Homo sapiens: one gene and its partners. The protein of the gene in region 2 purifies or fractionates together with the protein of the main gene of each other region. This does not show direct contact. Each region holds a gene or a part of one and is shown on either strand. Other genes may lie near its edges.

Region 1 (4,094 bases), on a different chromosome or scaffold from region 2:
CCTTAGCTGACTTTTACTTTATAAACTTAAAAAAATGGATTCTTTTGTAATAACATTTAACTTAAAACTAAAACACATTGTACAGCTGTACAAAAATATTGTCTCTCTTTACATCCTTGTTCTATAAGCTTTTTTCTAATTTTTTTATTTTTATTTTTTACTTTTTAAACTTTTCTTGTTAAAAACTAAGACACAAGCACACATTACCCTAGGCCTACACAGGATCAGGATCACCAACTGTATTAGTCCGTTCTCACACTGCTATGAAGAACTGCCTGGGTAATTGATAAGGGAAAGAGGTTTAATTGACTCACAGTGACTCGGGAGGCCTCAGGAAACTTACAGTCATAGCAGCAGGGAAAGCAAACATGTCTTTCTTTACATGGCAACAGGAGAGACAAATGCTGAGCAAAGGGGCTAAAGCCCCTCATAAAACCATCAGATCTCGTGAGAACTCACTATCATGAGAACAGCATGGGGGTAACCACCCCCATGATTCAGTTACTTCCCACTGGCTCCCTCCCACAACACGTGGGGATTATGGGCACTACAATTCAAGATGAGATTTGGGTGGCGGCACAAAGCCTAACCATAGCACCAACATCACTGTCTTCTACCTCCACATCTTTTCCCACCGGAAGGTCTTCGGGGGCACCAACATGCATAAACCTGTCATCTCCTATGATGATAATGCCTTCTTCTCGGATACCTCCTGAAAGGGCCTGCTTGGTGCTGTTTTACAGTTAACTTTTTTTTATAAGTGGGAAGAGTATATTTAATACCAAAAAAAGTATAGTATAGGCATACCTTGTCTTATTGCACTTAGCTTTATTGTATTTTATGGATACTTTGCTTTTTATAAATTGAAGGTTTTTGGCAACCTTGCCCCAAGCAAGTCTGTCAGTACCATTTTTCCAACAACATGTGTTCACTTTGTGTCTGTGTGTCAAATTTTGGTAATTCTTACAGTATTTCAAACTTCTTCATGATTTATTGTGTCCGTTAGTGATCTTTGATGTTGCTATTGTAATTGTTGGGCGGGGGGGCACCATGAAATGTGCCCATAAAAGTTACTGAATTTATTTGATAAATGAAATGCTGTGTGTGTTCTGACCACTCCACCCACCAGCCGTTCCCCATCTCTCTCCCTCTCAGACTTCCCTATTTCCTTAGACACAACAATATTGAAACTAGGCCAGTTAATAACCGTATTATGGCCTCTCGGTGTCCAAGTGAAAGAAAGTGTCCCATGTCTGTTACTTAAAATCCAAAGCTAGAAATGATTGAGCTTAGTGAAGAAGGCATGTGAAAAGCCAAATAGGCCAAAAGCTAGGCCTCAACACCAAATATTAGTCAAGTTATGAAAGCAAAGGAAAATTCTTGAAGGAAATTAAAAGTGCTACTCCAGTGAACGCACAAATGATAAGAAAGCAGAACATCCTTATTGCTGATATGGAGAAAGTTTCAGTGGTCTGGATAGAATATCAAACCAGCCACAACATTCTTTTAAGCCAAACCATAATCCAGACCAAGATCCTAACTCTTGAATTCTGTGAAGGCTGAGACAGGTGAGGAAGCTACAAAAGAAAAGTTTGAAGCTAGCAGAGGTTGGTTCATGAGGTTTAAGGAAAGAAGCCATCTCCATAACAGAAAAGTACAAGGTGAAGCAGCAGATGCTGTTGTAGAAGCTGCAGCAAGTTATCCGGAAGACCTAGCTAAGATCATTGACGGTGGGTACACTCAACAACAGATTTTCAATGTAGACGGAATAGCCTTCTATTGGAAGAAAGTGACATCTGGAACTTGCACAGCTAGAGAGAAGTCAATGCCTGGTTTCCAAGATGCAAAGATCAGAGTGATTCCCTTGTTAGGGACTAATGCAGCTGGTGATTTTACATTGAAGCCAAAGCTCATTTAGCATTCTGAAAATTGTAGGGCCCTTAAGAAGGTGGGGCTAAATCTACTCTGCCTGTGCTCTGTAAATAGAACAACAAAGTCTGGATGACAACACATCTGTTTACAGCATGGTTTACTGAATATTTTTTAAGCCCCCCATTAAGAGGTACTGTTCAGAAAAATAGATTCCTTTCAAAATATTACAGTGCACCTCATTACCCTAAAGCTCAGATGGAGATGTTTCATGCCTGCAACATCCAATCTTCGGCTTATGGATCAAGGAGTAATTTTGACTTTCAAGTCTTATTACTTAAGAAATACATTTTATAAAGCTATAGCTGCCCTGGATAGTGGTTCCTTTGATGGATCTGGACAAAGTAAATTGAAAACCTGGAAAGGATTCACCATTCTACACGCCCTTAAGAACATTTGTGATTCATGGGAGGAGGTTAAACTATGAACATAAAGAGGAGTTTGGAAGAAATTGATTCCAACCCTTCAGCCCTCATGGATGACTTTGAGGGATTGAGGACTTCCATGGAGGGAGTAACTGCAGATGTGGAGGAAATGGTAAGAGAATTAGAATCCAAAGGGGAGTCTAAAGATGGGACTGAATTGCTGCAATCTCATGTTAAAACTTTAATGGATGAGGAGCTCTTAGGGATGACCAAAGAAAGTGGTTTCTTGATGGAATCTTCTACTGGTGAAGATGCCGTGAACATTGTTGAAATGATAATGAAGGATTTAGAATATTACATAAACTTAATTGATAAAGCAGGTGCAGAATTTGAGAGGATTGATTCCAGTTCTGAAAGTTCTACTGTGGGTAAAATGCTATCAAACAGCATCCATCACAGAGAAATCTTTTGTCAAAGGAAGAATCAAATGATGTGGCAAACTTCTTTGTTGTCTTATTTTAAGAAATTGTCACAGCCACTTCAGCCTTCAGCAAACACCACCCTTGTCAGTTAGCAGCCATCGACATCAAGGCAAGACCCTGCTGGTGGGTCTTGGAAAAAGATGACAACTCACTGAAGTGTCTGATGGTTGTTAGCATGTTTTAGCAATAAAGTATTTTTGATTAAGGTATGTACATTGTTTACTAGACATAATGTTATTACACACTTAATAGACTACAGTATAGTGTAAACATAACATTTTTTTTTGAGATGGAGTCTTGCTCTGTCGCCTAGGCTGGAGTGCAGTGGCACGATCTTGGCTCAATGCAACCTCCACCTCCCAGGTTCTAGCACAGGTGGGCACCATCACACCCGGCTAATTTTTGTATTTTTAGTAGAGACGGGGTTTCCCCATGTTGGCCAGGCTGGTCTTGAATTCCTGAACTCAAGCGATCCACCTGCCTCGGCCTCCCAAAGTGCTGGGATTACAGGCATGAACCACCATGCCTGGCCAACATAACTTTTATATGTAGTGAGAAACCAAAAAAATTTGTGTGCCTTGCCTTATTGCAATATTTGCTTTATTGGTAGCCTGGAGCTGAACCAGCGATGTCCCTGAGATATGTCTGTACATAAACCAGTAACGTACTGTACCTAATTATGTTATACTTTTTTTTTTTTTGAGATTGAGTCTTGCTCTGTCACCCAGGCTGGAGTGCAATGGCATGGTCTTGGCTCACTGCAACCTCCGCCTCCTGGGTTCAAGTGATTCTCCTGCCTCAGCCTCCCGAGTAGCTGGGACTTCAGGCGTGTGCCACCACATCTGGCTAATTTTTTTTTTTTTGTACTTGTATTTGTAGTAGAGATGAGGTTTCACTATGTTGGCCAGGCTGATCTCAAACTCCTGACCTCGTGATCTGCCCACCTCGGCCTCCCAAAGTGCTGGGATTACAGGCGTGAGCCACCGCGCCTAGCTATATTATACTTTTATACAACTGGCAGTGTAGTAGATTTGTTTATACCTGTATCCCCACAAACGTGAATAATGCATTGCATTGTGACATGATGATGGTTATGACATCACTTGGTGATAGGAATTTTTCAGCTCCACTGTAATCTTATGGGACCAGTGTTTGTGTGGTCCGTCGCTGACATGTCATTATGTGACACATGACTCTATGGCATCCTGAACTGCAGAAGGGAGTAGGGGCCTAAGGCTTCTAGGGGGTGGTGGTGACACAAGTTATGTGGGGGGATGGGGAGGAAGTGCACTACAGAGTCTCTCAGGTAATAAAAGTT
Region 2 (4,325 bases):
TCCCAGCTACTCTGGAGGCTGAGGCATGAGAATCACATGAACCTGGGAGGCTGAGATCACACCACTGTACTCCAGCCTTGGCTACAAAGTGAGACCCTGTCTCAAAAAAAAAAAAAAATCTCCAAGGTTCTGCACATGTTGTGATTTCTGCCCTTTGTATTTATTAACACCTTTTCTTTGATTATAAATCACATGTACAAATATGTATACAGCATGCCCCTGTTTTTGTTTATTGAATAGAGAGGCTAAATACACCCTGGTATCTTAAATTACACACTGGAACAGAAAAGTGACATTAGCAGAAAAACTGAAATCTACCTTTGGTCTAAATGCTAATAGTAACACTATGTTTTTTATTTTTTTGGGGACAGGGTCTCGTGCTGTTGCCCAGGCCGGAGTGCAGCGGCAGGATCATGGCTCACTGCAACCTCAGCCTCCCGGGTTCAAGCAATCCTCTCACCTTAGCCTGCCGAGTAGCTGGGACTACAGGTATGCACCATCACACCTGGCTAATTTTTAAATTTCTTTTTGGTAGAGACAGGGTTTCGCCATGTTGCCCAGGCTGGTCTCTAACTCTTGGACTCAACCGATCCTCCTGCTTTGGCCTCCAAAGTGCCGGGATTACAGGCATGAGCCACTGCACCCAGCCACAGCCTACAATGTTAATGGTAACATTCCACCTTTAGTTTCTTTTTTTAATTAAAATTTGTGTGTGTGTGTGTGTGTGTGTGTGTGTGTGTGTGTGTAGACACGGACAGGGTCTCACTATGTTGCCCAGGCTAGTCTTGAACTTCTGGTCCCCAGCAATCCTCCTGCCTTGCCTTCTCAAAGCGCTGGGAGTAAGCCACCATGCCTGGCCCCACCCTTAGTATCTTACTGTGACAGATGTACCCTGGTTATATAAGATGCTAATATTCGGGGAAGTTGGTGAGGGGGTAGGTGAGAATTATCTGTACTATCTTTGGAACTTTTCTGTAAATCTTCAGGTATTTCAAAAAAAGTTTTTGTTTGTTTTTTTGCAGACAGGGTCTCACTCTGTCACTCAGGCTGGAGTATAGCAGTGAAATCATGGCTCACTGCAGCCTTGGCCTCCCAGACTCAATTGATTCTCCTGCCTCAGCCTCCCAAGTAGCTAGGACTATAGGCGCATGCCATCATGCCCAGCTAATTTTTATATTTTTTTGTACTGACGGGATCTCACTATGTTGCCCAAGCTGGTCTTGAATTCCTGGATTTAAGCGATCCTTCTCCCTTGACCTCTCAAAGTGTTGGGATTACAGGCGTGAGCCACTGCACCCAGCCAAAATATTATTATTATTATTAATTTATTTATTTATTTTTGAGACGGAGTCTCGCTCTGTCGCCCAGGCTGGAGTGCAGTGGCGCGATCTCAGCTCACTGCAAGCTCCGCCTCCTGGGTTCACGCCATTCTCTTGTCTCAGCCTCCCGAGTAGCTGGGACTACAGGCACCCGCCACCACGCCTGGCTAATTTTTTTCTGCTTTTTTTTTAGTAGAGACGGGGTTTCACTGTGTTAGCCAGGATGGTCTCGATCTCCTGACCTCATGATCCGCCTGCCTCAGCCTCCCAAAGTACTGGGATTAGAGGCGTGAGCCACTGCGCCCGGCCTATTTTTGTATTTTTTTTTAGTAGAGTTGGGGTTTCATCATGTTGTCCAGGCTGGTCTCGAACTCCTGACCTCAACTGATCCACTTGCCTTGGCCTCCCAAAGTGCTGATTATAGCTGTGAGCCACTGCGCCCAGCCCAAAATGTTTTTTTAATCAAAGAAAAAAAGCTTATGGCAAAAAAGTATTCAAAGAGTACTTAAGCATAGGAAGAGAAAATTTTAAGTTATCTTCAGTCTTTCCTTAAATTCTCAAGGTAACAAATAAAAGTCAAATTGCAATTTTTATTGGCTGTGTAATATTCCATTGCACGCTACTTTTTTTTTTCTTTTTGAGACAGAGTTTCATTTCGTTGCTCAGGCTGGAGTGCAATGGCGCAATGTTGGCTCACTGCAACCTCTCCCTCTCGGGTTCAAGCGATTCTCCTGCTTTGGTCTCCCAAGTACCTGAGATTACAGGCATGAGCCACCACGCCTGGCTCACTTTTGTATTTTTAGTAGAGACGGGGTTTCACCATGTTGGCCAGGCTGGTCTCAAACTCCTGACCTCAGGGGCTCTCTTTCCTGCCTTGGCCTCCCAACCTGCTGGAATTACAGGCATGAGCCACTGTGCCTGGCTTTTTTTTTTTTTTTTTTTAGTTGGAGTCTTGCTCTGTCACCCAGACTGGAGTATAGCGGTGCAATCTTCGCTCACTGCAACCTCTGCCTCCCAGCTTCAAGTGATTCTCCTGCCTTAGCCTCTCGAGTAACTGGGATTATAGTCCGCCACCATGCCCAGTAATTTTTGTATTTTTAGTAGACATGGCATTTCGCCATGTTGGCTAGGGTGGTCTTGAACTTCTGACCTCAGGTGATCTGCCCGCCTTGGCCGCCCAAAGTGCTGGGAGTACAGGTGTGAGCCATGCCCAGCCTGCATGCTAATTTGTTCTTCTCATCCCTTATTATTATCTATCTAGGTTGCTTCTGTCTTTTTGCCTTTATTTAGAATGCTGCCATGAACATCTCCCCCAAACTGTTGTCTGTTTCTTGGGGATAAACTGAAATGAGATTCCCTGGATGGAGAGGATTGGAGTTAAGGAACCCCAGGGCCCGCCCTGATCTGAGGTGTGCTGGGGGAGAGGGACCGGCCTGGCCGGCCGTCTCACCTACCTTGAAGGTGATCTCTGCCAGGCAGCGCGTGCACTTGATGTAAAAGCGGAAGATGGGCAGGCCCAGGTAGACCTCGTTCTGCACCGTCTCCTTCCGAGCATTGAATTTCTTCCCCTTGTAGATGTATTCTCCGCACGTCTTACACCTGCGGGGCAGCATGTAGGGATGTGAGCTGTCTTGGGACGCTGGCTCCCACTGGCAGGCTGTCCCTGCGGCATCCTGCAAGATCACTGCTTGCTTGCCTCCAGCAACGGGGAGCTCCCTCCTTCAAGAGGCAGGCTGCCCCACCCTGTGTCCAAATTTCCTCTACCTGAGAACTTCGTGTTCTCATTCATATCTTCCTGGGGCTCAGTCCAAGGGTCGCCTGCTTGGGAAGCCCCCTGAGTAGGTGAGGCCTGCCTGTCATGCACTCCCAGAAGCAATCTTTGTGCTTACGGGGCACCCCACCCTCCAGGAGGAAAGATGCCACACAGAAAAATGCTGCCCCACCCCCCTCTTCCCCTCCTACTCCGGGCTCTGCTCCCCAGCCCAGCACGCCCGCCTCCTGTCTGATCCTGCAAACACCCCCAGCTCAGTCCCAGCTCAAGGCCTCTGCTCCTACAGTCTCATGGCCGGCGACACCCTTCATCCTCAGACCTCAGCGCCACCAGTATTTTGCCTGATGTCACCGTACCCCAGCTACCTATAGCCCTCCCTCCTGCGCCACTGCCCCAGGGGCTCTCTCCTGCCTGACTTCGGGGGCCCGTGCACCTGCCTGACTACCACTATTCTCCACTTCCCATTAGACTGTGGGCTCCATGAGGCCAGGGACTTTGTTCCTGGCGCTCGGCACAGACCCTGGCACACAGCAGGTGCCCAATAAATGAGTGTTGAATGAATAAATGAATGAATGAGGGGGAGGAGTAGACAGGCCAACAACACATGGGCATGAACCGAATTTCACTGACCCAGATGTCTCTTTCCTCGTTAGGTGCGTGATTTCAGATATGCTAGAGCATGAAAAGGTATGGGGTTGAGAGTTGGTGAAATACAGTAATTCTGAAGTGCTACAAAAGGCAAGATCTGGGCACCGTGAGGGGATGATGGAGGCCTCCCGGAGGGGTGAGATTGGAGCCATGACCTATGGCAGACAAGAGGAGCCTGCCATGTGTAAGTAGAAGGAGAAGGCCAGGTGCGGCAGCTCACGCCTGCAATCCCAGCACTTTGGGAGGCCAAGGAGGGCAGATCACCTGAGGTCAGGAGTTCGAGACCAGCTTGGCCAACATGGTAAAACACCAACTCTACTGAAAATACAAAAATTAGCCGGGCGTGGTGGTGCACGCCTGTAATCCCAGCTACTTGGGAGGCTGAGGCAGGAGAATCGCTTGAAGCCAGGAGGTGGAGGTTGCAGTGAGCTGAGATCACGCCACTGCACTCCAGCCTGGGCAACACGGCAAGACTCTGTCTCAACAAAAAAAAAAAAAGAAAGAAAGAAAGTAGAGGGAGAGAGTTCCAAGCAGGGGCAGCAGTGTGTGCAAAGGCCCTGGGGTAGGAACGAGCTTGGCTGTTGGAG
Region 3 (4,325 bases), on a different chromosome or scaffold from region 2:
GGCTCTTTGATCTGTACAGTGAAGGTGTTGGCGTAGATGATGTCTTAGGTTCCTTTCAATTCTGTAATTTTTTATTTTTTATTTTTATTTTTATTTTTTTTTTGAGATAGAATCTCGCTCTGTCGCCCAGGCTGGAGTGCAGTGGTGCAATCTTGACTCACTGCAGCCTCCGCCTCCTGGGTTCAAGTGATTCTTCTGCCAAGTAGCTGGGACTACAGGTGCCCGCCACCACGCCTGGCTAATTTTTTTGTATTTTTAGTAGAGATGGGGTTTCACCATGTTGGCCAGGCTGGTCTTGAACTCCTGACCTCAGGTGATGTGCCCACCTTGGCCTCCCAAAGTGCTGGGATTATTGGTGTGAGCCACTGCACATGGCCCTATTTTTTTTTTTTTGAGACAGAGTCTTGCACTGTCGCCTGGGCTAGAGTGCAGTGGCGTGATCTCGGCTCACTGCAACCTCCGCCTCCCGGGTTCAAGCAATTCTCCTGCCTCAGCCTCCCAAGTAGCTGGGATTACAGGCATCTGCCACCACGCCCAGCTAATTTTTGTATTTTTAGTAGAGATGGGGTATCACCATGTTGGCCAGGCTGGTCTCAAACTCCTGACCTTGTGATCCGCCCACCTCAGCCTCCCAAAGTGCTGGGATTACAGGCGTGAGCCACTGCGCCTGGCCTCCACATGGTCCTATTTTAATTCTTTTAATTAAAAAAAATTTTTTTTTTTGAGACGGAGTCTTACTTTGTCGCCCAAGCTGGAGCACAGTGGGGCGATCTTGGCTCGCTGCAGCCTCCACCTCCCGGGTTCAAGTGCTTCTCCTGCCTCAGCCTCCCAAGTAGCTGGGACTACAGGTGTGTGTCACCACGCCCGGCTAATTTTTATATTTTCAGTCTCTACTGGGTTTTGCCATGTTGGCCAGGCTGGTCTTGAACTCCTGACCTCAAACGATCCGCCTGCCTTGGCCTCCCAAAGTGCTGGGATTACAGATGTGAGCCACTGCACCCAGCCTGTATGTTTTTTTAAAAAAAAATTAAAGTAGGATCTCACAGTAAATGTATGTGTATACTTTCTTATCATGTATGGTACTTTAGTTTGAAATTTGAAAATGGAGCATTTATAGTGTTACTGTAAGTTCATTTTGCTGCCTTTTCAGTGGAGAAGAGTTTTTCCCAACATCCAATAGTCTTCTTCATGGAACACATGTGCCTTCCACAGAGGAAATTGACAGGATGGTCATAGATCTGGAAAAACAGTAAGTATTCAGTAGAGCAGCTTGACGTTGTAAATACTTCATGACAAAATGCACTTAGAATATGCACCTATATCTGACGTGCTTAGAATGAATTCAAAAGATAGAAATTGTACAGTTATACTTGCTAATTTTTGACCTGTCTATAGTGGCTTGGGGATGGATAGCAAGTGTGGGTTGAATATATCTGATTTGGAATGGAGATGAAGAATGTTGATGAAACTGAATTGTTAATATTGAAGGGGAAAGGTCTAAAAAAAATGATCCTTCTTTAAGGATTTTACTTTAACCACTCCCCTGTTTGATTTGAAGAAGCAAGAATGTTGTAGTAAATGTTCCTCGCTTAGGTTTGTGTTTCTTAATACTGATAGAGGCGACTATTAGGTAGAGCAGAATGAAAATATATTTTAGGAGTTAATACATGAAAAGTATTAAGAATAGTGTCTGGGCTGGGCGTGGTGGCTCCTGCCTATAATCCTAGCACTTTGGGAGGCTGAGGCAGAAGGATTGCTTGAGCCCAGGACTTTGAGAACAGCCTGGGCAACATGGCAAAACCCTTTCTCTACAAAAAATATACAGGAATTAGCTGGGCATGGTGGTACGTGCCTGTAGTCCTAGCTACTTGGGAGACTCAGTCAGGAGGATCACTTGAGTCCAAGAAGTGGAGGGTGCAGTGAACTGTGATTGCATCACTGCACTCCAGCTTGGGCGACAGAGCGAGACCCTGTCTCAGGAAAAAAAAAAAGTGTCTGGCACATATTATGTGCTCAGTATTAGCTGTGGTTATTATTTAATATAATTTTTTTTTTTTGAGACGGAGTCTCACTCTATTGCCCAGGCTGGAGCGCAGTGTCACGATCTTGGCTCACCACAACCTCCACCTGCCAGTTTCAAGCGATTCTCTTGCCTCAGCCTCCTGAGTAAATGGGACCACAGGCGTGTACCACCACTCCTGGCTAATTTTTGTATTTTTAGTAGAGACGGGGTTTCGTCATGTTGACCAGGCTGGTCTCAAACTCCTGGCCTCAGGTGATCTACCTGCCTTGGCCTCCCAAAGTGCTGGGGTTACAGGCATGAGCCACTGCGCCTGGCCTATTTAATATTGTTATAGTTATCTTCTTTTTTAGAAAATGTATTCAAAAAAATTTTTTTTATAGTGATGGAGTCTTCCTATGTTGTCCAGGCCCTGGTCTGGAACTCCTGGGCTCAAGTGATCCTCCCAGAGGACCTTTTGGGAGGCCTTGTCCTCCAAAAGTAGTGGGATTACAGGCATGGGATTACAGCCGCCATGCCCAGCCAATAGTTATCTTCTTCAGTACAGTCAAGTTCCCAACAATGAGTCATCGCTCTAGCATTCTGAAGATGAATTTGTATTTACTGGATTTCACAGTTCATATTCTGAGTTGTGCCATTAATTCAGTTTCAACTTTAACTTGATGAAAACTCTCCTGGCTTCCTCTAGCCCTCACAACATGTGCTATTCTAAACGTGATTATATTCCTGTTTGGTTGTGTTTTATTAAGATCAAAAGAGAAGGCAATTTTGAATTTTGTAAATTTTCTTCTTTCCCCAGGATTGAAAAACGAGACAAATATAGCCGGAGACGTCCTTATAATGATGATGCAGATATCGACTACATTAATGAAAGGAATGCCAAATTCAACAAGAAAGCTGAAAGATTCTATGGGAAATACACAGCTGAAATTAAACAGAATTTGGAAAGAGGAACAGCTGTCTAATCCCTTCAAGAACTGTTTATAGAAGCTTGAGAATGGGGTAAAAATTTCTGCTAGCAAAATCAAGTTCTTTTTGAAATTTTATCAGTAATCCAGAATTTAGTAGTCCATGCCTTCTCACTCAGCATTTAGAAATAAAAATGTGGTTTCTTAAACGTATATCCTTTCATGTATATTTCCACATTTTTGTGCTTGGATATAAGATGTATTTCTTGTAGTGAAGTTGTTTTGTAATCTACTTTGTATACATTCTAATTATATTATTTTTCTATGTATTTTAAATGTATATGGCTGTTTAATCTTTGAAGCATTTTGGGCTTAAGATTGCCAGCAGCACACATCAGATGCAGTCATTGTTGCTATCAGTGTGGAATTTGATAGAGTCTAGACTCGGGCCACTTGGAGTTGTGTACTCCAAAGCTAAGGACAGTGATGAGGAAGATGGCAGTGGCCACCGGAGGACTGGAGCAGTCCCTCCTCATGGCGGCCTGTGACCAAGGTCGGGGAGGAGTGGAGCTATCCTTCCATGATCTGATCATGTACAGTTCCCTTTTTAAAAAGCAATAAATGCTTGGGATTAGAATTTCTAACATTTTTAGTCTATCATTTAAAACAAACATTTGTATATATACATTTGTTTATATACATACATGCTTCCATTCTACAAACACTGAAAGAATATTTTATTATGGGAAATTCCATACACCCAATACCCCTGGTGAGTCCCATATACCCAGTACCCTGTTCAACAATCATTAACTCATGGCCAGTCCTGCTTCATCTTTATTTCCATTTACTTTCTTCATGACTCTTATTTTGACGCATATACTAGATATATAATTTCATCTATAATTATTTTAGTATGTATCTCTGAAAGATAAAGACTTAAATGACCACAATACTATTATCACTGCAATAGATTTATTTTTATAAAACTCCAGAGGGAAAGGTTGTTATTTTTTCTCTATGTTGAATTAAATGCTAAATATCTAATTGGGATATTTTAAATTCAAAGAAATCTGAAGCTCAGAAAATTTCAAATATTGGCCGGGTGTGGTGGCTCAACGCCTGTAATCCCAGCACTTTGCGAGGCTGAGTCAGGTGGATCACTTAAGATCAGGAGTTTGAGACCAGTCTGATCAACATGGTGAAGTCCCATCTCTACTAAAAATACAAAAATTAGCTGGGCATGGTGGTGGGTGCCTGTAATCCCTGCACTTTGGGAGGCTGAGGCAGGAGAATTGCTTGAACCTGGGAGGCAGAGGTTGCACTAAGCCGAGATCACGCCACTATACTCCAGACTGGGTAACAGAGCAAGACTCTGTCTCGAAAAAAAATTCAAA
Region 4 (4,325 bases), on a different chromosome or scaffold from region 2:
CATGGTGAAACCTCGTCTCTACTAAAAATACAAAAAAAATTAGCCAGACGTGGTGGTGGGCGCCTGTAGTCCCAGCTACTCGGGAGGCTGAGGCAGGAGAATGGCATGAACCTGGGGGGCGGAGCTTGCAGTGAGCTGCACTCCAGCCTGGACGCCAGAGCAAGACTCCATCTCAAAAAAATAAATAAATAAAATTAAAATTAAAAAGATTTATACCTAAGTTATTTCTTGTGTTTTGGTGCTTTTGTAAATAGCACTTTAAAAAAATGTTGTATTTCCAGCTGTTCAATGTTAGTATATAAAAATATAATTTTGAAGCTGAGCATGGTGGCTCACACCTGTAATCCCAGTACTTTGGGAGGCTGAAGCAGGCAGATATCACTTGAGCCCAGAAGTTCCAGACCAGCCTAGCCAACATGGTGAAACTCTGTCTCTACTAAAAATACAAAAATCAGCCAGGTGTGGTGGTGGATGCCTGTAGTCCCAGCTACTCGAGAGGCTGAGGCAGAATAGCTTGAACCTGGGAGGCAGAGGTTGCAGTGAGCCGAGACTGGGCCACTGCACTCCAGCGTGGGTGACAGAGGAAGACTCTGTCTCAAAAAAAAATATATATATATATAAATATATAAAATATATAAATATATAAAAATATATATAAATATATAAAAATATATATATGAATATATATGGGGTGTGTGTGTATATATATAATTCTGTATATTGAACTTCTTTTCTGTGATCTTGATAAATTCACTTATCCATTTTAGAAGTCTTTCTGTAGGTTCCTTGGGATTTTCTACATAGAAAATTATGTAGGATTTTAGGTGGGCATGGTGGCTCATGCCTGTAATCCCAGTACTTTGGGAGGCAGAGGCGGGTGGATCACCTGAGGTTGGGAGTTCGAGACCAGGCTGGCCAACATGGCGAAACTCTGTCTCTAGTAAAAATACAAAAATTGGCCGGGCATGGTGGCACATGCCTGTAGTCCCAGCTACTCAGGAGGCTGAGGCAGGAGAATCGCTTGAACCCAGGGGACAGAGGTTGCAGTGAGCCGAGACTGCACCACTGTACTTCAGCCTGGGTGACAGAGCGAGACTCCATCTCAAAAAAAAGAAAATTATATAGGATTTTCTATGTTACAATAAAGACAGTTTTACTTATTATTTTCTAATCTTTATGCCTTTTATTTCCTTTTTTTACTTTACCGCACTGGCTAGGATTTCCAGCATCACGCTGAATATAGTGGTGAGAGTGGATGTCTTTGCCTCGTTCCTGATCTTAAGAGGAAAGCATTCAATCCTTCACCATTAAATAGTTTATTGGCTATGGGTTTCTTATAAGTACTTTATCAGGGCCGGGTGTGGTGGCTCATGCCTGTAATCCCAGCTCTTAGGGAGGCCAAGGTGGGTGGATCACCTGAGGTTGGGAATTCGAGACCAGCCTTGCCAACATGGTAAAACCCTGTCTCTACTGAAAATACAAAAATTAGCTAGGCGTGGTGGCTGGCACCTGTAATCCCAGCTACTCGGGAGGCTGAGGCAGGAGAATCACTTGAACCTGAGAGGCGGAGGTTGCATTGAGCTGAAATTGCACCACTGCACTCCAGCATGGGTGACAAGAGCAAAACTCCGTCTCAGAAAAAAAAAAGAAGTGCTTTATCAGGGTAAAAAGTTCCCTTTTATTCCCAGTTTGCTGAGTTCTTATCATGAATAAACGTCTAATTTTGTCAAATACTTTTTCTGCATCTACTTAGATCATACAGTTTTTCTTCTTTGGAATGACACAGTGAATTAACTTATTTTTGAATGCTGAATCTACTATGTTTTTCCAGAATAAATCCTCCTTAGTTGTGATGTATTATCCTTTTTATACATTGCTAGGTTTTGTTTTTTTTTTTGAGACGGAGTCTCGCTCTGTCGCCCAGGCTGGAGTGCAGTGGTGCAATCTCGGCTCACTGCAAGCTCCGCCTCCCGGGTTCCAGCGATTCGCCTGCCTCAGCCTCCCAGGAAGCTGGGACTACAGGCACCTGCCACCACGCCCGGCTAATTTTTTTGTATTTTTAGTAGAGACGGGGTTTCACCGTGTGTTAGCCAGGATGGTTTCGATCTCCTGATCTCACGATCCACCCACCTTGGCCTCCCAAAGTGCTGGAATTACAGGCGTGAGCCACCGCGCCCGGCCATACATTGCTAGGTTTGATATGCTAATGTTTCATTAAAGATTTTTGTCTATATTCATAGGAAATATTGTCAGTAGTTATTTCTCATAATATCTTTTTCTGATTTTAGCATCAGGGTAATGCTGATACTAAAATTCACAAAATGAGTTACAAAGTGTTCCCTCTTCTTCCATTTTCTTGAGGAAACTATGTGGAGTTGGTATTATTTCTTCCTTAAATATTTAGTAGAACTGACCAGTGAAGCCATCTGGGTCTGGAATTTTCTTTTAGAAAGGTATTTAGAAATGAATTCAATTTCTTTCCATCTTTTTTTTTTTTTTTTTTGAGATGGACTGTCGCTCTGTCACCCAGGCTGGAGTGCAGTGGCCCAATCTTGGCTCACTGCAACCTCTGCCTCCTGGGTTAAAGTGATTCTCCTGCCTCAGCCTCCCAAGTAGCTAGGATTACACGCATGCGTCACCATGCCTGGCTAATTTTTGTATTTTTCATAGAGACAGGGTTTCACCATGTTGGCCAGCCTGGTCTTGAACTCCTAACCTCAGGTGATCCACCCACCTCCACTTCCCAAAGTGCTGCAGTTACAGGCGTGAGCCACGGTGCACAGCCCCAATTTCTTTAACAGATATAGGACTACTCAGGTTTACCATTTCTTTTTGAACTGTGTCTCTAAACAGTAGAATTATTGACACTGTAGTTTATTTAGGATAATTATTTGTAGGAGGCTTAGCACATCCCTGGCCTCTACCCACTATGTGCCAGTAGCACCCTTCCAGTTGTAACAATCAAAAATTTCTTCAGGGCTGGGCGCAGTGGCTCAAGCCTGTAATCCCAGCACTACGGGAGGGTGAGGTGGGCAGGTCATGAGGTCAGGAGATCGAGACCATCCTGGCTAACATGGTGAAACCCCGTCTCTACTAAAAATACAAAAAAAAATTAGCTGGGCATGGTGGTGGGCGCCTGTAGGCCCAGCTACTCAGGAGGCTGAGGCAGGAGATTCGCTTGAACCCGGGAGGCAGAGGCTGCGGTGAGCCAAGATCATGCCACTGCACTCCAGTGTGGGCAACAGAGCAAGACTCTGTCTCAAAACAAAACAAAACAAAACAAAATGAACTATTTCTCGGCCAGGCACTGTGGCTTACACCTGTAATCCTAGCACTTTGGAAGGCCGAGGAGGGTGGATCCCCTGAGGTCAGGAATTGAAGACCAGCCTGTTCAACATGGTGAAACCCTGTCTCTACTAAAAAATTACAAAAATTTGGCTGGGCGCCATGGCTCACGCCTGTAATCCCAGCACTTTGGGAGGCCGAGGCGGGCGGATCACGAGGTCAGGAGATCGAGACCATCCTGGCTAACACGGTGAAACCCCATCTCTACTAAAAATACAAAAGATCAGCCAGGCGAGGGGGTGGGCGCCTGTAGTCCCAGCTACGCGGGAGGCTGAGGCAGGAGAATGGCGTGAACCCCGGGGGGCGGAGCCTGCAGTGAGCTGAGATGGCGCCACTGCACTCCAGCCTGGGTGACAGAGCGAGACTCTGTCTCAAAAAAAAAAAAAAAAAAAAAAATTAGCCAGGTATGATGGAGGGTGCCTGTAATCCCAGCTACTCGGGAGGCTGAGGCAGGAGAAATTGCTTGAACCCAGGGAGGTGAACCCAGGGAGAAATTGCTTGAACCCAGTGCAGTGAGCCGAGAACTCGCCACTGCACTCTAGCCTGGGTGACAGAGCAAGACTCCATCTCAAAAAAAAAAAAAAAAAAAAAAAAGGACCACTTCTCTTAAGTGAGCTTTGGCAGTTTGTGTCTTGTAAGGAATTGACCTATTTCATCTAAGTTGTCAAATTTATGGGCATAACATTGTCTGTAATATTTCCTTATTATCCTTTTAATGTATATAGATTCTATAGTAATATTCCCAATTTGGTTCCTAATATTCTTAATTTGTGTATATTTTTTCTTGGTCAGTCTGACTAGAAGTTTATCAATTTTATTGATCTTTTTTTTTTTTTTGAGACAGAGTCTCGCTCTGTCTCCCAGGCTGGAGTGCAGTGGCGCGATCTCAGCTCACTGCAAGCTCCACCTCTTGGGTTCATGCCATTCTCCTGCCTCAGCCTCCCAAGTAGCTGGGATTACAGGCGCCTGCCACCACATCC
Region 5 (4,325 bases), on a different chromosome or scaffold from region 2:
ATAACTAGTGCCTGAATATAATAAAGAAAATGCTTAAGTGAAAGATAATGATTTACAAACTGGAGGACGAATATAAATAGGAGACAACTTGCAAGAATTCTAAAAAGCTAAAAGATCAGGGTACTGAAAATCTAAGAATGAGTATGATGGGACTACTTTTTAAGACTACTGAATGAAAGAACTAATGGACAATAGTTGTTACAGAATGGAACGTGAGAATATCACATTTCAGGGGCAGGGCACTAATAACACTAACATGGTGAGGCCATACAACTGAAGACTAAGGTGGAAAAAAATGCAAGTTAAGAAACTTAGGGACTAGGATATTGATGACTCAAGACAGCTATCTTTAATTCTCTATCAATCAATTGAAGACACTGAAACCGAAAGTGCACCCTACAAGATGCAATATATTTACAGATAAATACACAACTCTATCCCATTTACCCGTGCAGTTGAATCTCGACTACAGGTTACCAACACATCGATTGTCGGGTGCAAATCCAAACCATACACTGCACTTAAATGTCCATGATAATGCCGTATAACCTAAAGACAAAGCAGGAAAGTTAAAACTTCTAGAATTAGAAAGATAAATAGTAGTTCACAATGTTTTAAATCCTTAACTCCAAACTTACCTTATTGTATTCGAGATCCCAGCATTTCACTTGTTTGTCTTCTCCACAAGAGAACAGATATGGGCTCCTTGTGCTTACTATCACGCCCCGCACAGTACTAATATGCCCAGTCAATGACAGTTTTAATTTGCCACTAGCCAAGTCCCAGATCTGCAATCAAAGAATATTTATTTTTTTCTTTCACTGGTTACTGCAAAACAAAATTTTAGAAACCTGATTATTAAAACTGAGCTTTCAAAGACAAAAGGAAAAAGATAACAAATACGTAAAAATAAAAAATTTTGCAAAATGACTCCCCTCCAAATAAAAGCAAGAAAAAAACTGGCATGCTCAAACTGGAAAAATATTTGCAATTAGATGACAAAAGGTTAACCTTCTTGTTATATAAATGATATCTTTGATAATAACAGTAAGAAAAGTATGGTATTAAATTAACTGAGGCTGGCAACAACTTAAAGAAATCCTAAAAGCAGCAAATACAGATATGAAAAAGTTCACACTCATTAGAAATTTCATACAAAGTTTTTTAAAAAGATTAAGTATCCATTTTTGCTTACCATATTAGATATTTGTAAAGGAATGTACAACCAATGTGCTGAAAAGGATCCTCTCATACACTGCAAGTATCGATTCACCCATTTGGAAAGTAATTTGTACTTTGGGTATCAGCTTCAAAAATATTTGACCCATTTATTCCATTTATGGAACTCTACCATAACAAAATAATTTAAAATACAGAAAAAGTCTTATATACAAAACTTAACAGCATTACTTGTAATGGTGAAAATCAGACTAAAAACTCTACTGTCCAGTAATAGGAAAACAGATTACAGACTATCTAAATGATATAATATTATGCAACCACTTTAAAAGATGGTAAATTTTTCACAGGAATATGCCTTTGATACAACGTTAAGTGAAAAAAGCAAGATACAAAATTACATACTAAGAATGATTTTTTAAAAGATACACACACAGGAAAAGAGCTTAGAAGTGAAGGTATTGATACTTACAGAAATAAATACTAAAACGAAACTTATCCAAATATCTAACAATGGTAGGATTATATACAGGTCTATGTACTTTCCTAATTCTCTATATTTTCCACATTTTCTATGAATGAGCATGCTCTTAATTTTGTAACCAGTTGGAGAGAACAATGTAAGTATAAAGGAATTAGTGGTAGGTATTCAGTAGGTAAAGAAAAAGTGGTTTAAATAGCACTTTTCAAACAGATATTTATTTAGAACACTTATTAGTATAAATGATAAATTTTACTCCTTATTCAGGTCTAAAATAACAGAGGAACTGCAATAGCAATTCCTGCCACAGGAAATAATAACTGATTAAACTTACATGACAAACACAAAGTCATGTTTATTTTTTCTTCCTTCATTATTACCTTTATAGTTCTGTCAGCAGATCCAGTAACAAACCACTGATTTCCAGGTTCCACAGCAATACATCGAACCCAGCCAAGATGCCCACTGATAACCTGTATAAAACAAAGTAGAATGGGCAGGCCAACGTAGAAGTTAAAATGTATTTAAGTTTAACTGCAGCCCGAGTTTGAATTGCCCTCCCATCTTCAAATCATAAAAGATAATGACTATTACATTTTACAATAATATGAAATTATCTTCAGTGAGTTAATAGTTAACACAAATTGTGGCTCATCTATATAATGTAAACTACTCAGTAATAAAAAGGAATACATTATTAATACTTGCAACAACTTCAATGACTCACAAAGTATTAAGCTGTGTGAAGGAAGCCAGTCTCAAAAAGTACATATTGTATGATTCCATTTATATGACATAGTCAAAAAGACACAGCTAAACCAACCTAAGTGTCCATCATGAGGTGAATGGATAAATAAAATGTGGTACATACACACAATGGAATACTATTCAGCCATAAAAAAGAATGAAATTCTGTTATTTGCAACAACATGGATGGAACTGGAAGATACTATGTTAAGTGAAATAAGCCAGGCACAGAAAAACAAATATTGCGTGCTCTCTCTCATATACGGGAGCTAAAAAATAAATGATCTTCAGAGTTGAATGATGGCTACCAGAGGTTGGGAAGAATAGTGGGGAGGCAGAAGATAAAGAAGAGGTGGATCACGGGTACAAAAATAGATAAAGGGAGTAAGATTTAGTGTTTGGTAGCACTAGTTTGGTTAGCTAGTTTGGTAGCACTAGTTTGGCTAGTTAGCTTGGTAGCACAATAGAGTGACTACAGTTAAGAGTAATTTATTGTATATTTCAAAATAACTAGAAGAGTAAAATTGGAATGTTCCTAATACAAAGAAATAATATCCCAATTACCGTGATTTGATCATTACACACTGTATGTTTTTCTTTGTTTTTTGTTTTGAGATAGGGTGTCACTCTGTCGCCCAGGCTGGAGTGCAGTGGCGTGATCTTGGCTCACTGCAACCTCCGCCTCCTGAGCCCAAGTGATCCTCCCACTTCAGCCTCTGGAGTAGCTGGGACTACAGGTGTGCTCCACTACACATAGCCAATTTTTGTATTTTTTTGTAGAGGCGGGGTTTTGTTGTGTTGCCCAGGCTGGTACTGAACTCCTAGGCTCAAGAGATGCGCTTGCCTAGGCCTCCCAAAGCACTGGGATTATAGGCATGAGCCACCATGCCTGGCCTACACACTGTATGCTTGTATCAAATTTGATATGTAGCCCATAAATATGCACATCTATTATGTTAGCCATAAAAATTAAAAATAAATTAGAACTGAAATTATTGAAAAAAAATAAGACAACTATAGTGATAGAAAACAGATCAGTGATTGTCAGAGGTGAAGGAAAGTGTAACTACAAACGAATAGCACAAGGGTGTTTTTTGAGGTGGTGTAACATCTATATCCTAATTGTGGTAGTGGTTACCCAAATCAATACATCTATTACAATTCATTAGAGCTGTATGTCAAACAAAAAGGCTCTTACTGTACAATCATTTGAAAAATGAAATTTTTAAGATACATATTAAATTATGTGTAGCTGTACATTTCCTACTATGTACATTTTCTTTTTTAAAATTTTCTGTTTTTAATTTTTGTGGGTACACAGTAGAAATGTATTTATGGAGTACATGAGATATTTTGGTATAGGCAAGCAATGCAAAATAAACAGTATGGAACACTTCACGAATCTGTGTTATCCTTGTGGAAGGGCCATGCTCATCTTCTCCGTACCATTCCAATTTTAGTGTATGTGCTGCTGAAGTTAGCATGCATGTCCATTTTCTTTTAGATGATACACTCTGAATCATTTTCATTTATTGTAGTTGAAAGAGTAACTGGTAGGCCCAAATAAATTTCTTTATATGGTGTTTTTCCCCTTCACCTTCAAACTAAATACTTTGAACACTTTTTCTACATTTATTTAGTCTGCCATCCATATTTAGTAGCTTTATCTTGACATTTCATACTATTTTATATAAAAGTATAACTTTTGCTTAAGGAAGTCACCTTCCCAAGAGATCTTTTAAGATACTCCCTACGACTCTTCTCAATCCACCTCAGATCGCTCTACCAGCTTTTCATATTCACTCTTTTTCCTCCTTATTCTATTCTTCAGTGCTTGTCAACTACAAAGCAATCATGGTTCACATAATAAAATAAATGCAGAGTCACTCACCCTGTAGAGTTTCCACGGTGGGTGCCA
Region 6 (3,074 bases), on a different chromosome or scaffold from region 2:
TGACCTCAGTAAGTATTGTAATGCACATGTGTTCTTCAAGACTATTACATCCTTCTTTGCTTTCTTTCCCCAGCTGTATTCACTGAACAGATTGTTGATGTTATACACTCTCTGGCTAGTCTGTCAATTCCCTCGACAACTTGACCAAGTCTCATAGTTAAGTGGTGAAACATTTGTTTCCTCTGCCTTCATCTTGGACTGCTGAATCTTGCTGAAGAAAACTTCAACCTTGTTCAAATTCTCTAAAACTTATGTTTTATGAAACCAGGTGGGATTCAGTACTGACTGGGAAGAATCTATGGGAGTAAATATGGAACCCTAAGAAAAGCTACTTTCTGGAAAATAAAAATGATCAATTCCTGATCTTTACACATGCTGATATACTTCAAGGTCAATTCTAGATTCTTCTTTCTTCTAACTTTATCCTTTCTCCCTAGTATCTTATTTTTGCTTTTAGCTACAACTACCATATTTATCCCAATGACTCTAAAGTATTTATATTGAATATCACAAATTTAGAGCTTCAGATCATATTCTGTTTCTGAGATTTAGACTAATATCTTCAAGTGCCTGCCAGGCAAATCCATTTGAATATTAAAAGTACCTTAATTCATCAAGTACAAATTTAAACCCAAAGTCTTTTTTTCTCTCAGAAACAAGATATTCTTCCATCCATCCAGTCAGATAGGTCAGCAACTTAGATGTCTTTCTGTAACTATTATTTCCTAAATAATTCCCCCAGGCTCTTTCTTTCTCTCCATTTCCACTCCCAATACTCTAATGATTTCCTAATTTATATATGGTAACCACACTGTTCTTTCCTCGCATCCATTGATATCAGCGTAGCCAGAGATGTATTTTCTAGATGTGGATATGATAATTTTATGCCCCTCTTTGACAAACAACCATCAAAGCCTGTAATGAGTTTCTTATCCCTTTAGCATAAAATAGGAAGTTCCTATGTGGTTTACAAGGCTCCTCCTGTTCTGGGATATGCCTTCTACTCCAGGCTCATCATGAACTACTCTGTTTTTAATTTTCCTTTATATATGATTAATATATCTCTAAATTATCTTTCCTATGTGTAACTGGACACTTGCCCTTTCCAGAGAGAAAACAGGTAAAGCAAAAATGATTTTATGTCATTATTTTATTGATGATGTGTTTTATAGAATCACAAAATTTAGAAACATAAGAAGGATTTAGGTATCACCTAAATTCAAAGAAATGTGTGTTTCTAGGTTGCTAAATTTGAAGAGAAAGTATGATTTGGTTTGGTTCATTTAAAACAGGTCAGAAACAGAATTATATTTCAAATTTAGAAGACACGGTATTAAATGATTCATCTTATCTTGGACATTTTTCCTCAAGGGAAATTTTTCTGGAAGGAAAAGTACATTTATATGTGGGCTTATTAAGAGAAAGAGAGAAAGGCATGCTATTTTAATCATTAAATTCTTGATGATGACTATCATCATCAAGATGAGATAGAAAAGAAATATGAGCCAAGAGAATCTGTTGTTGCCAGCAATCAGTTTACCAGAACACCTCTAGGTGAACATTTTCTAAATGGAGTGACAGACTAATTGCATCTATGGGGATGAGAATCTGCCATAGAAGAGGATGCTGTTGGTCTTATTTTGCCTTATGAAGAATAGGAAAGGGTGATTACAACAGAACTCTTCATTAGTTGAAGGAGATGATAATTCGACTACTACTACAGCGGTGGCAGCTGCAGCTTCCACTCCCTCCTCAGTGACCTCCACAAAGGCCTTGTGTAGGACTTTAGATACTGAGAGACCGTGGCTCCAGGTCATGCCTGAGAGGTCTGCATCCCCATTGAAGATATTCACCATTCCCATGGTTCTCAACGTGTCCTTGAGGTCATAGCTCTCTTCCATTTTGAACCGAGGTAAGTGTAAATCGACACATGTCTCTCTCATATTCTGCAAACTTGTCCATTCCATCAATTTCTCAGCAGTGAGTTTCTCTTCAAGCTATACAAATGGAAAAAAGAAACTGATATGACTAACTGTCGATCTCTAATACACCTTAACAATGAATTGACTATGTGGAGATTCGTTATTTTGGCAATAAATGTGAAATACAGAAGGTTCACTTTAATAGACATTATTATTCTAATAGGTAAAATATGAGTCCTGAATATATAAATACATTGGGTTATATGTGTATATGTATATACATGTATGTAAAAACAGAATCATGTTTTTACGTATATGTATATGTGTACATATGTATGTATACAACTGTATGATACACATGTAAAATATGATTACATTATTTTGTACACAATGAACTGTATGTATCACTATTTCTTGTGCCAACAGCCTACTACATGTGTCAATTTTTAATAGGCTCATCATATTTTTCTGTATACATTATTTAGTACACATTGCAATTATTAAATTGTAATTCCCTAAATTCCTAAATTTGTATTCCCTTTTCTACTCGGCCTATTTGTAAACTTTCCTCACATTGGTATATATTTCTCCCAGTCAAGTTTAAATTGCTGCATAATAATATCATCAAATTGATATCCAATGCATGTAACTCTAATAAATTAATCATTAACTAAGCCATAGATGGAATTAAATCATAGATGGGAATTGAACAATGAGAACACTTGGACACAGGAAGGTAACATCACACTCTGAGGACTGTTGTGGGGTGGGGGGAGGGGGGAGGGATAGCATTAGGAGATATACCTAACGCTAAATGACGAGTTAATGGGTGCAGCACACCAGCATGGCACATGTATACATATGTAACTAACCTGCACATTGTGCACATGTACCCTAAAGCTTAAAGTATTATAATAATAATAATAAAAACAAACAAACAAACAAAAACTAAGCTTTCAGTTTGTGTCAGGCCCTATGCTCAAATATTTGTAATATGAAGGTGAGTCATCATTCCTCATTTAGAATTTTTCATCATTTTGAGGCAACTCGGTCATAAGCTTTTACCTTGTTTAAACTTGGTATCTTTGGAAAAATGTCCGGCAGTAGAAGGAAGAGTTGTAGATGCAAGTTCTTACCTTCTGCAGACCATCG
Region 7 (4,325 bases), on a different chromosome or scaffold from region 2:
AGGATGAACAAGGAGGTGCTTTGCCTTCTTGTTTTAGCTCTCATACAGAAATAACCAGAGGATGAAGTTCAAGTTCCAAGTCTGGGATCTGTTAGTGGGGCAGTTTCAAGAAAGTTACTTTACATTTCTCAACTTTGTTTTCTCTTTTATAAAATAAAGAAGTCTACCAGGATGAGTTTATTTTAGGATTTAAGATTATAATCTATTTGAGAGATATGTATATGTGTGCACATGAATATGTATATATTTCCCCTAGGAGAAATGGTACAGTATTTGCTAATTCAGTGTTCATAGGACTTAAAGAACATAACCCATGACTAATGAGAATCAACTGTTTAAGCAACGCTTGATAACATTCTATCAAGTGGTGCTCTGCAAATGGGACCTCAGAACTAGTTTTGTTACAATATTATACAATAAATGTCGTAGTTTGGTTTAGGTCCTGTTAGTACTCTTGAACTTTGAGGTGGGTTTCAAAATAGTGGCCTTTCATATGGGTTGCAGTTCTAGAACATAATCCCAAGACAAAGTCTAGCTATATTATTTTTATCACACTTCCCCTACCCATACTTTGTGGGGTTTTTTTGTTTGTTTTTTGAGATGGAGTCTCGCTCTGTCACTGTGGCTGGAGTGCAGTGGCACAATCTCAGCTCATTGCAACCTCTGCCTCCCAGGTTCAAGCAATTCTCCTACCCCAGTCTCCTGAGTAGCTGTGACTACAGAAGCGCCACCATGGCCGGCTAATCTTTTTTTTTTTTTTTAGTAGAGATGCGGTTTTACCATGTTGGCCAGGCTGGTTTCAAACTCCTGACCTCAGGTGATCCACCCGCCTCGGCCTCCTGAAGTGCTGGGATTACAGGTGTAAACCACCGCGCCCGGCTTTTCTTTTTCTTTTCTTTTTTTTTTTTTTTTTTTGAGATAGAGTCTCATTCTGTCGCCTAGGCTGGAGTGCAGTGGCAAAATCTTGGCTCACTACAACCTCTGCCTCCCAGGCTGAAGCAATTGTCATGCCTCAGCCTCCAGAGTAGCTGGGATTACAGGCACACGTTACCATGCCCAGCTAATTTTTTGTATTTTTTTTTTTTGTAGAAATGGGGTTTCACCATGTTGGCCAGGCTGGTCTCGAACTCCTGACCTCAAGCAATCCACCCACCTCTGCCTCCCAAAGGGCTGGGATTACTGGCATGAGCCACTGCACCCAGCACCTCCCATACTTTTAAAATGTACTAAAACTTTGGGTGAGATGGAAAGAAAAGAGAAAAAACAAAAAAAACAGAAGATGAAGAAAAAGGTTCTTACTCATTGTATACTTTCCAGGCATTACATCCATGCTGTGACATTAGTTCCAGATTCTCAATTCTAACTGCTTGATGCTCTAACTGGGCCATAGAATTGTTTACACATTCTTGCCATGCAGTAATGTCATTTTTTTGACCAGAGGAGGGGGCTGGAAGCTCATATCTGAAATTAAACAACAAAATAAAATAAAACCATCTATACTGCCAAGCCTTTACATCTCTTCTCAGTAGAATGTCCCATGAGTCTCCATATAGTATAAAAACTACAGAAGACTAAGGATGTAAACCTTGCAATAATAAGAAACCGATATATGCTAACAATCAATTTACAAATATGATTTAGCACCATTATGTTCACTTCAATGTGAACTGGTTAAATAAGCAACATTACATTCACATAAAAGATTGTTACATTAGCTATTAAATGTTACTGAAGAATATTTAATAATATTAAGATGTCAGTAATATATTAAGGGGAAAAAGCAGTAGACAAAAAAGTTTGCTACCATTTTTGTAAAATACTCACACCCACCCATCCACTAACATACCCATGCGCCGGTAGAGAAAAAAATGAGAAGCGATATGACTCCTTCTATTCTCTCTTCATACTACCCAGTCAGTCCTTCAACACTGCCTCTCTCTCTCTCTCTCTCTCTCTCTATATATATATATATATAGTTTTTTTTTCAAGACTGGGTCTCCCTCTGTCCCCAACGCTGGAGTGCAGTGGCACAATCTCGGCTTGCTGCAACCTCCATCTCCTGGGGGGTGTCAAGCGATCCACCTACCTCAGCTTTCCAAGTAGCTGGGTCCACGGGTGCGTGCCACCACACCCAGGTACGTTTATTATTATTATTATTATTATTATTAATTATTTTTGGTAGAGATGGGGTTTTGCCATGTTGCCCAGGCTGGTCTCAAACTCCTGGATTCAAGCAATCCACCAGCCTCGGCCTCCCAAAGTGCTGGAATTACAGGTGTGAGCCACCACACCCGGCCAACACTGCCAATATTAGCCAGCAAATACATTCTTCACAAATCTCAGCTCATTACTGAGTTACTACAAACTAAATTTTAATTTCCATTTTAATATTCTTACCGTTTCATACTGAGCAATTCAATTGGTTGTCGAGCAGCCAGTCTTTCAAATTCATTTCTCATTATGTCAGTCTGATGTGTAAATCAGAAAAAAGATTTCTAAGATCATGTTGACAACTAAAAATTAACAATCACCAAAGAACAGATTTAAGCTACACTACCCATTATAATGAATTGTTTACCTTTCCCTAATTCTTCTCTGAGTTAAATGCTCTCTAGAATCTGAAGCACACACACACACACTCACTCACTCACTTCACATTCAGGAAAAGTGGCATGTATTAAGGAGCCCACAGAGAAAAGGATTAATCCTAAACCAGTGGTTCTTAATTCCAGAAGCATATCAGAATCAGTTCGACAGTGCTATGGTTTGAATGTTTGTCCCCTCTGAAATTCATACAGAAACTTAATCCCCAATGTAATAGTATTAAGAGGTGGGGTCTTTAAGAGGTGATTGGGTTATGAAGGCTCAATCCATTCATGGGTTAATAAGTTATCACCAGAGTGGGTATGTTATAAAAGCCAGTTTGTCTTTCTCTTGTGTGCCCCTACCTTGCCATGTAATGCCCTGTGCTGCTTCAGGACTGTACACCAAGTCCACACCAGCAAGAAGGCCCTCACCAGATGCAGCCTGTGAACCGTACACTTTCCAGCCTCCAGAAATCCAAGAAATAATTTATTTATTTATTTATTTTTTTTTTGTGAGACGAAGTCTCGCTCTTGTCCCCCAGGCTGGAGCGCAATGGCGCGATCTTGGCTCATCTCTGCCTCCCGGGTTCAAGCGATTCTCTTGCCTCAGCCTCCCGAGTAGCTGGGATGACAGGCATCTGCCACTATGCCTGGCTAATTTTTGTATTTTTAGTAGAGACAGGGTTTCACCATGTTGGCCAGGCTGGTCTCGAACTCCTGACCTGAGGTGATCGGCCTGCCTCAGCCTCCCAAAGTGTCTTTTCTTTATATTCACTATCTTCTCTAGCAATTTTACTGTTCGCAAGTAAATGTAGTATAGCTGTTCCTCTTTAGGGCCAACGTCCTAACCCATTTCCATTCTGCACATTTCCTACCCTGAGGATAAAGAACTGCTTAAAATATTTCTTTGTAGTAATACTTCGGTTATTCCATGTAATTTTAATTTTCTGAGGGTTTCAACTATCTTAACAATTAGACTAAATAAGTATCAAAGGCCTTACAGAAGCCTGCATGAATGTTTAAAAGTTTTTATTAGGCCGGGCGAGGTGGCTCATGCCTGTAATCCCAGCACTTCGGGAGGCCGAGGTGGGTGGATCACGAGGTCAAGAGATCAAGACCATCCTGGCCAACAAGTTGAAACCTCATCTCTACTAAAAATACAAAAATTAGCTGGGCGTGATGGCACGTGCCTGTAATCCCAGATACTCGGAGGCTGAGGCAGGAGAATTGCTTGAACCTGGGAGGTGGAGGTTGCAGTGAGCTGAGATCACACCACTGCACTCCAGCCTGGCAACAGAGTGAGACTTCATCTCAAAAACAAAAAAACAAAAAAACAAAAAAACAAAAAACAAAAAACAAAAAATTTCGTATTAAGCATTTCTTTCTGCAGAAAGTATTTTGCAGGGGCTACTGCTAAATTACACACAATCTTAAGAAAATGTAGTTACCTAGTTTCCTGCAAAAAAAAAAACCAGGGCATTCTAGCTAGAAAATTCTGCAGTGACAGACAAGGAGTAAACAGCCAATTAAACACGAGGCAGTATAAAAATGCAGTATAAGTAGTCTTGAGCCATGTAGCATAGGAGGAACCCTTAACTAACTCACATGCTCAGTAAGTGATAAATCTGGAATTTTAGCTCATCTCTCTCCAAAGACTAAGCCAGTGTTCATGGAGCGGCAAGGGCAATCCCTGCTCATGGAGTAGTCTCATCTTAGCTTTGAGAGGCCTTCCTCAACCAC

What was found.
Region 1: the proteins of YJU2 (region 2) and PRPF19 purify together in Homo sapiens (affinity purification with mass spectrometry; 4 studies listed by BioGRID and IntAct, with this or other methods). This does not show direct contact.
Region 3: the proteins of YJU2 (region 2) and SYF2 purify together in Homo sapiens (affinity purification with mass spectrometry; 3 studies listed by BioGRID and IntAct, with this or other methods). This does not show direct contact.
Region 4: the proteins of YJU2 (region 2) and ISY1 purify together in Homo sapiens (affinity purification with mass spectrometry, with the first as the bait; 3 studies listed by BioGRID). This does not show direct contact.
Region 5: the proteins of YJU2 (region 2) and PLRG1 purify together in Homo sapiens (affinity purification with mass spectrometry; 4 studies listed by BioGRID and IntAct, with this or other methods). This does not show direct contact.
Region 6: the proteins of YJU2 (region 2) and SERPINB4 purify together in Homo sapiens (affinity purification with mass spectrometry; 3 studies listed by BioGRID and IntAct, with this or other methods). This does not show direct contact.
Region 7: the proteins of YJU2 (region 2) and BCAS2 purify together in Homo sapiens (affinity purification with mass spectrometry; 3 studies listed by BioGRID and IntAct, with this or other methods). This does not show direct contact.

What each region holds. Positions count from the first base shown.
Region 1 is NC_000011.10:60,892,887-60,896,980, reverse strand, and holds part of PRPF19 (pre-mRNA-processing factor 19), read left to right. Parts: intron 1-4,094. UniProt on the Homo sapiens protein: Ubiquitin-protein ligase which is a core component of several complexes mainly involved pre-mRNA splicing and DNA repair. Required for pre-mRNA splicing as component of the spliceosome.
Region 2 is NC_000019.10:4,249,620-4,253,944, reverse strand, and holds part of YJU2 (splicing factor YJU2), read right to left. Parts: intron 2,919-4,325; coding exon 2,774-2,918; intron 1-2,773.
Region 3 is NC_000001.11:25,221,926-25,226,250, reverse strand, and holds the end of SYF2 (pre-mRNA-splicing factor SYF2), read left to right. Parts: intron 1-1,150; coding exon 1,151-1,249; intron 1,250-2,819; coding exon 2,820-2,985; 3' UTR 2,986-3,975; downstream 3,976-4,325. UniProt on the Homo sapiens protein: Involved in pre-mRNA splicing as component of the spliceosome.
Region 4 is NC_000003.12:129,150,525-129,154,849, forward strand, and holds part of ISY1 (pre-mRNA-splicing factor ISY1 homolog), read right to left. Parts: intron 1-4,325. UniProt on the Homo sapiens protein: Component of the spliceosome C complex required for the selective processing of microRNAs during embryonic stem cell differentiation. Required for the biogenesis of all miRNAs from the pri-miR-17-92 primary transcript except miR-92a.
Region 5 is NC_000004.12:154,540,147-154,544,471, forward strand, and holds part of PLRG1 (pleiotropic regulator 1), read right to left. Parts: coding exon 4,299-4,325; intron 2,134-4,298; coding exon 2,041-2,133; intron 789-2,040; coding exon 639-788; intron 550-638; coding exon 448-549; intron 1-447. UniProt on the Homo sapiens protein: Involved in pre-mRNA splicing as component of the spliceosome. Component of the PRP19-CDC5L complex that forms an integral part of the spliceosome and is required for activating pre-mRNA splicing.
Region 6 is NC_000018.10:63,636,127-63,639,200, forward strand, and holds the end of SERPINB4 (serpin B4), read right to left. Parts: coding exon 3,059-3,074; intron 1,998-3,058; coding exon 1,593-1,997; 3' UTR 1,133-1,592; downstream 1-1,132. UniProt on the Homo sapiens protein: May act as a protease inhibitor to modulate the host immune response against tumor cells.
Region 7 is NC_000001.11:114,574,291-114,578,615, forward strand, and holds part of BCAS2 (pre-mRNA-splicing factor SPF27), read right to left. Parts: intron 2,469-4,325; coding exon 2,398-2,468; intron 1,462-2,397; coding exon 1,300-1,461; intron 1-1,299. UniProt on the Homo sapiens protein: Required for pre-mRNA splicing as component of the activated spliceosome. Component of the PRP19-CDC5L complex that forms an integral part of the spliceosome and is required for activating pre-mRNA splicing.